Linked DNA regions of Homo sapiens. The protein of the gene in region 2 interacts with the protein of the main gene of each other region in a biochemical or structural test. Each region holds a gene or a part of one and is shown on either strand. Other genes may lie near its edges.

Region 1 (3,745 bases), on a different chromosome or scaffold from region 2:
ACCTGGACCTGGGAGGCAGAGGTTGCAGTGAGCTGAGATCACGCCACTGCACTCCTCCAGCCTGGGCTACAGAGCTAGAGTCCGTATCAGAATAAAAAAAAAAAAAAAGGGCTGGGCAAGGAGCAGGTGATTATGAAGTGGTAAATCTGACAGTGAAAAGTAGTTAGAAAACAAAGTGGAGATTTTTCTCTCCACCCTCACCCACCCACTGAGGGTGTATGCTCAGGGTTTTAGGGTATAGAGGTAGAGGCCCAGGGAATGACTGAATAATAATAATGGAAGACTCATATGATGCTTACTATGTGCCAGGTACTATTCTAAGCACTTTGCATATATTAACTTGTTTCATACATAGCTGGGCGGGGTGGCTCACATCTTGGCTGAGGGGGAGGATTGTTTGAGCTCAAAAGTCTGAGACGAGCCTGGGCAACATGGTGAGATTTCGTCTCTATTAAAAATCAAAGGCCGGGCGCGGTGGCTCACGCCTGTAATCCCAGCACTTTGGGAGGCCGAGGCGGGCGGATCACGAGGTCAGGAGATCGAGACCATCCCGGCTAAAACGGTGAAACCCCGTCTCTACTAAAAATACAAAAAATTAGCCGGGCGTAGTGGCGGGCGCCTGTAGTCCCAGCTACTTGGGAGGCTGAGGCAGGAGAATGGCGTGAACCCGGGAGGCGGAGCTTGCAGTGAGCCGAGATCCCGCCACTGCACTCCAGCCTGGGCGACAGAGCGAGACTCCGTCTCAAAAAAAAAAAAAAAAAAAAAAAAATCAAAAAAATTAGCTGGGCATGGCAGCGCGAGCCTGTAGTCCCAACTACTCGGAAGGCTGAGGTGGGAGGATCCCTTGAGATGGGGAAATCAAGGCTGCAGTGAGCCATGATAGTTCCACTGCACTCCAGCCTGGGTGACAGAAGGAGAACCTGTCTCAAAAACAAACAAAATAAAACAAACAGGCTGGGCACGGTGGCTCACGCCTGTAATCCTAGCACTTTGGGAAGCTGAGGCAGGCAGATCACCTGAGGTCAGGAGTTTGAGACCAGCCTGGCCAACATGGTGAAACCCCGTTTCTACTAAAAATACAAAAATTAGCAGGGCATGGCGGCGGACAGCTGTAATCCCAGCTACTCGGGAGGCTGAGGCAGGAGAATCGCTTGAACCCGGGAGGCGGAGGTTGCAGTGAGCCGAGATCGCGCCCCTGCACTCCAACCTGGTGACAGAGCGAGACTCCGTCGAAAGAAGGAAAGGAAAGGGAAAGGGAAAGGAAAGGGAAAGGGAAAGGAAAGGAAGAGAGAGAGAGAGAGAAAGAAAAGAAAAGAAAAAAGAAAAGAAAGAAAGAAAGAAAGAAAGAAAGAAAGAAAGAAAGAAAGAAAGAAAACAAACAAAAACAAATAGGGATTAATAAATAGGCAGAAGCAGGCATAATCCGGGGCAGGGGAAGCCTCGGGGCCACGCCCGAGAGGCATTTGTATTTTACTTTCAGCAGTTCAGAGCCCATGATAGCCAGGTTACCCACTTGTGGACTTCCTTGACCACTTAATTGAGTCAATCTAACCCTCACCTTCTCTCTCCTCTCACTCCATTTAGCGGGTCACGTAGCCACTAGGGCTTCCTTAGCCTATCAGGCCACCTGGGGACTGAGTCATTCAGTCAGTCACCTATCTGGTGGTCACATCTGCCCCTGGGCTCATCCTTTTACTGGGCCACCTCGGCCCATCGGGACCTGTCAGTCCTTGACCTCCCTCAGGCCCCTAGGCTGGCCAGGTCGCCTCAGTGCCACGCCTCCCTGGCCCGCGATTCAGCCTGCACGTTACGCTTTGTTCCCAGAAGCAGGTTTTCGAAACGCGGTTCCCTCTCGGCTCCAGCTGTTTTCCTGCCAGCGCTGGGAGACCCGGCAGCCGCAGCGCCCCCAGCGGCGCGCAGCGGCCCAGGAAGAGAGTGCCTACCGCCGGCGCCTCTTCAGCCTCCTCCTGGAACGCGGGAGCGGGCGCGACCAGCGCCCACCCTGATCGTCGCGACGGTGCTCCTGATTGGCTGCGCTGTGTGACGTAACGGGAGGGCCCCGGCGGCCGCCGGGAGCCGGGGCCCAGCGCGTGCGCAGACGGAGCGCGCTGAGCGGAGGGGGAGGTGGCTGCCGCTTCTCCCGCGTCCGCCATTTTGTTGCTGTGGCTATTGGGAACAAGCTGGGCAAAAGCACCCCGGAGGCGCGACGCTCCTTCGAGTTCGGTGCCTCGTGTGACGGCGGGGGTCGGTGAAGACCCGTCGAGCTGCGGCGCCGGCGCGTTCCAGGCCGGGAGTCACTGGAGGCACCCCTGGGACGCCGAGCAGCCCGAGAACCCCGGGGTGGCCTCCGCTGCGGCTCGGGTTTGCCTGCCCCGACCCCCCGGCTCTGCCGTGCATTCCCGGGCGGCTCTCTCCGTGTGGCGGCCCCGGAGCAGGCGGGCGGCGTCGGAGGATGCTGCGGGCCCGGAGCCGAGAGGAAAGTGCTGGCCCAGCCCTCTGAGCGCTCCTCGAGGTGTGCGAGAGGCCCTTCCTCGGCCCCAAAGCCGTCTGCCGGGCTAAGGCGTGCAGAGCAGGCGAGGACAGCCGCCGCCCCTACCGCCGCAGAGTCCCCGGTCCAACACCATGTCCTCCGCCAGGTTCGACTCCTCGGACCGCTCCGCCTGGTATATGGGGCCGGTGTCTCGCCAGGAGGCGCAGACCCGGCTCCAGGGCCAGCGCCACGGTATGTTCCTCGTCCGCGATTCTTCCACCTGCCCTGGGGACTATGTGCTGTCGGTGTCCGAGAACTCGCGGGTCTCCCACTACATCATCAACTCGCTGCCCAACCGCCGTTTTAAGATCGGGGACCAGGAATTTGACCATTTGCCGGCCCTGCTGGAGTTTTACAAGATCCACTACCTGGACACCACCACCCTCATCGAGCCTGCGCCCAGGTACGCGAGAGCCCTCCCCGACCGCGGAGGAAGGTCGAGAACCGGGTCTGTCGAAGAGTGCTTGTATAGGGGGGTGGGGCGCGCTTGAACCCATATTCCCCGCATTCTGAACCAAATTATTTTCCAGAAGGCCTTCCTAACAGAAAGCTAGTGTCAGGATCTGGGTCACTGGATAAGAGGATGCGTTTTTTTTTTTTCCCTCTCACGAGGCTGTTTCTCAATGTGAAGAGGATGCGTTTTGAATGTTTAACGGTGGTTGCATAGTTAAAATGCACGCTTTTTGCCTTTCGTGACTTTCTCTGGGTGTAATACTGATGCAGGGATTTGTTGGTTTTTCTAAAAACCTCTTTTTTTTTTTTTTTTTTGAGACGGAGTCTCGCTGTGTCGCCAGGCTGGAGTGCAGTGGTGCGATCTCGGCTCACTGCAACCTCCGCCTCCCGGGTTCAAGCGATTCTCCTGCCTTAGCCTCCCGAGTAGCTGGGACTACTGGCTCACGCCACCACACCCAGCTAATTTTTGTATTTTTAGTAGAGACGGTGTTTCACCATGTTGGCCTGGATGGTCTCGATCTCTTGCCCTCGTGATCCGCCTGCCTCGGTCTCCCAAAATGCTGGGATTACAGGCGTGAGCCACCACACCCGGCCAAAAACCGTTTTTAAGCCATAGACTTCTTTGAGAATCTGAAGATAGCCGAGCACTCACCACCCCACCCCCACCCCCACCCCCACCCCTCCCCGCCAAAGGCACGTACACACAAGTTTGCACACCATCCCGGGTGCTTGTACTCCCTCCAGATCTCTGAACTCCAGGTT
Region 2 (3,745 bases):
GCCACTCAGCCCTCATCCTGCCCTTTGCCCAACAGTGACGCGCACTGTCTGTGCCGGTGGCTGTGCCCGCTGCAAGGGGCCACTGCCCACTGACTGCTGCCATGAGCAGTGTGCTGCCGGCTGCACGGGCCCCAAGCACTCTGACTGCCTGGTATGTGCCTCTGCTTTGTGCCCAATGTGCTCTACCCCCCAGGATGCAAGGGGTGGGCACCCTGCCTGGTACTGCCCTATTGCCCCTGGCACACCAGGGCAAAACAGCACAGTGAAAGCCAGCCACCTGTCCCCCCAGGCCTGCCTCCACTTCAACCACAGTGGCATCTGTGAGCTGCACTGCCCAGCCCTGGTCACCTACAACACAGACACGTTTGAGTCCATGCCCAATCCCGAGGGCCGGTATACATTCGGCGCCAGCTGTGTGACTGCCTGTCCCTGTGAGTGCCAGGGAGAAACACAGTTTTCTCATTTTGGTGGGGAGGTTTGTTTCTGTAAATGGGAGCATATGGGGAGCACTGTCTGCATCTTGCTTTGAGAGCTGGTCATGACAGTTCCTGCCGAGCTGCCTTGTTCTTTCAACAGCTGTGGAGCAGGTGGCAGTAAGGAGAGGCAGCTAAGAGCCCAGACTTGGGAGCCAGACTGCCTGGGTTTGAAACCCAGCTCTATCAATTAGTAGGCACGTGACCCTCTTGCTGTGCCTCAGTTTCCTCATCAGTAAAATGGGGGCAAGAATAGTCCCAACTGCATAAGATGGTTATAACATTTGAAAGAGTTAATATTTGTAAAGCTCTTAGAACGGTGCCTGGTATGTACTAAGTGCTCCTAAATGTTAGCTTTTATTCTATAGCCTGGTGAGGTCAGTTTTACCTTTCGTTTTGTTTTTGAGACCGAATTTAGTTAGCTCTATCGCAGTGGCGCGATCTCGGCTCACTGCAACCTCCGCCTCCCAGGTTCGTGCTATTCTCGTGTCTCAGCCTCCTGAGTAGCTGGGATTACAGGCGCCCACCACCATGCCTCGCTAAATTTTGTATTTTTAGTAGAGACAGGGTTTCACCACGTTGGCCAGACTGGTCTCGAACTCCTGACTTCAGGCGATCCACCTGCCTCGGCCTCTGAAAGTGCTGGGATTACAGGCGTGAGCCACTGCACCCGGACTTTTTTTTTTTTGGCAGAGTCTCGCTCCATTGCCCAGGCTGGAGTGCAGTGGTGCAATTTTGGCTCACTGCAACCTCTGCCTTCCGCATTCAAGCAATTCTTGTGCCTCAGACTCTTGAGTAGGTGGAACTACAGGCATGCACCACCATGGCTGGGTAATTTTTGTATTTTTAGTAGAGACGGAGTTTCACTATGTTGGCCAAGCTGGTCTCGAACTCCTGACCTCAAGTGATCCACCCGCCTTGGTCTCCCAAAGTGCTGGGATTACAGGCATGAGCCATCGTGCCTGGCCTAGCTCAGTTTTATTTAACAGATCACCTATTTACTGATGGGCGTTTATGGACTGGGCTCAGACCTGGGGAACCTCTTTCCTCCTCTCACAGGAACAGGAGTGGGCCTTCAGATCCTGGCTGACTGTGTTAGGGAGAGGACAAAATGTAGAGCCAGACCATTTGGGTTCAAATCCTCGCTCCTCCACTCACTAGCACAATGACCTTGAATAATTTACAGAACTCTCTGCTTTGGTCTCCCTTTTTGCAAAATGGGAATCTCACAGTGCTGATCCCGTCTGGTTGTTGTGAGGGGTAAATGGATGTCAGGTGCTGATGCGTGGTAGGGCATTTAAGTATTGGTTGATATTATTCTTCTTGTGCCTGGGCACGGTAATGCTGCTCATGGTGGTGCACGAAGGGCCAGGGTATGTGGCTACATGTTCCTGATCTCCTTAGACAACTACCTTTCTACGGACGTGGGATCCTGCACCCTCGTCTGCCCCCTGCACAACCAAGAGGTGACAGCAGAGGATGGAACACAGCGGTGTGAGAAGTGCAGCAAGCCCTGTGCCCGAGGTACCCACTCACTGCCCCCGAGGCCAGCTGCAGTTCCTGTCCCTCTGCGCATGCAGCCTGGCCCAGCCCACCCTGTCCTATCCTTCCTCAGACCCTCTTGGGACCTAGTCTCTGCCTTCTACTCTCTACCCCTGGCCCCCCTCAGCCCTACAAGTGTCCCTATATCCCCTGTCAGTGTGGGGAGGGGCCCGGACCCTGATGCTCATGTGGCTGTTGACCTGTCCCGGTATGAAGGCTGAGACGGCCCCTTCCCCACCCACCCCCACCTCCTCAGTGTGCTATGGTCTGGGCATGGAGCACTTGCGAGAGGTGAGGGCAGTTACCAGTGCCAATATCCAGGAGTTTGCTGGCTGCAAGAAGATCTTTGGGAGCCTGGCATTTCTGCCGGAGAGCTTTGATGGGTAAGAGTGGGCACGATGACCTGAGACAGTGTCAGGGCAGACAGAGTCCTGAGGATCCAGATGTGGCAGCATCTCTTGGGGATGGCAGGAGACAGAAGTGGGGGGATCAAGAATGCAAAGAAAGCAGATGGGAGACCAGAGGAGCAGGGCCTTTGGTGGGTGGGGGTGATTATTTTTGTAAATGACATGCTATCCGTGAACAAGGACTTGTATGGAGGTCAGACCATCTAGATAAAGTAAAATTCCCTTTGAGTTCATAGCAGCTTTATTCAAAATATCCCCAAATTGGAAATAACTCAAATGTGCATCACTAGGTGAAGGAATAAACAAGTGGCAGTGTATCCATTTGGTGAAGTTCTACTTAGCAACCAAAGGAAATGAACTACCGATACAACATAAATGAATCTCAGAAACATTACATTGAGCAAAAGAAGCCAGAGACAAGATTCCATACTGTCTGATCCCCTTTATGTGAGGCTCTGAACCGAAAAAACCACTCTGTGGTGGGAGAGATCAGAACGGTGGTTGCCCCAGGGTGGGGGGCTTCAAAAGGGAGGCACACAAGGACATTTCTGGGGTAATAGAAATGCTCTGTATAGTGATTGGGGTAGTGGATACATGAGCGAATCCATTTGTCAAAACTCATCAAACTGTGTGATAAGAGTCTGTGCATTTTATTTATTTCATTTTATTTTTTGAGATAGAGTCTCACTCTGTCAGCAGGCTGGAGTGCAGTGGTACGATCTTGGCTCACTGCAACCTCTGCCTCCTGGATTCAAGCAATTCTCCTGCCTCAGTCTCCTGAGTAGCTGGGACTACAGGTGTGTGCCACCATGCCCAGCTAATTTTTGTATTTTTAATAGAGATGGGGTTTCACCATGTTGGCAAGGATGGTCTCGATCTCTTGACGTCGTGATCCGCCCACCTCAGCCTCCCAAAGTGCTGGGATTACAGGCATGAGCCACCACACCCGGTGCATTTTATTGTATATAAGTTATACTTCAATAAGAAATGAATTGGGGCCAGGCACGGTGGCTCACGCCTGTAATCCCAGCACTTTGGGAGGCCGAGGCAGGCAGATCACTTGAGGTCAGGAGTTCAAGACCAGCCTGGCCAACATGGTGAAACCCCATCTCTACTAAAAAATATAAAAAATTAGCCAGGCTTCCTGGCATGCGCCTATCATCCCAGCTACTTGGGAGGCTGAGGCAGGAGAATTGCATGAACTCGGGAGGTGGAGGTTGTAGTGAGCTGAGATTTCGCTATTGCACTCCAGCCTGGGCGACAGAGTGAGACCCTGTCTCAAAAAGAAAAAAAAAAAAAAGGGTCAGGCGCCGTGGTGCACAC

Evidence for each region.
Region 1: the proteins of ERBB2 (region 2) and CRKL form a complex in vitro, tested with the Homo sapiens proteins (2 studies listed by BioGRID and IntAct, with this or other methods).

Annotation. Positions count from the first base shown.
Region 1 is NC_000022.11:20,915,313-20,919,057, forward strand, and holds the start of CRKL (crk-like protein), read left to right. Parts: upstream 1-2,094; 5' UTR 2,095-2,622; coding exon 2,623-2,933; intron 2,934-3,745. UniProt on the Homo sapiens protein: May mediate the transduction of intracellular signals.
Region 2 is NC_000017.11:39,710,051-39,713,795, forward strand, and holds part of ERBB2 (receptor tyrosine-protein kinase erbB-2 isoform a precursor), read left to right. Parts: intron 1-35; coding exon 36-151; intron 152-289; coding exon 290-431; intron 432-1,877; coding exon 1,878-1,997; intron 1,998-2,271; coding exon 2,272-2,398; intron 2,399-3,102; coding exon of another isoform or gene 3,103-3,219; intron 3,220-3,745. UniProt on the Homo sapiens protein: Protein tyrosine kinase that is part of several cell surface receptor complexes, but that apparently needs a coreceptor for ligand binding. Essential component of a neuregulin-receptor complex, although neuregulins do not interact with it alone.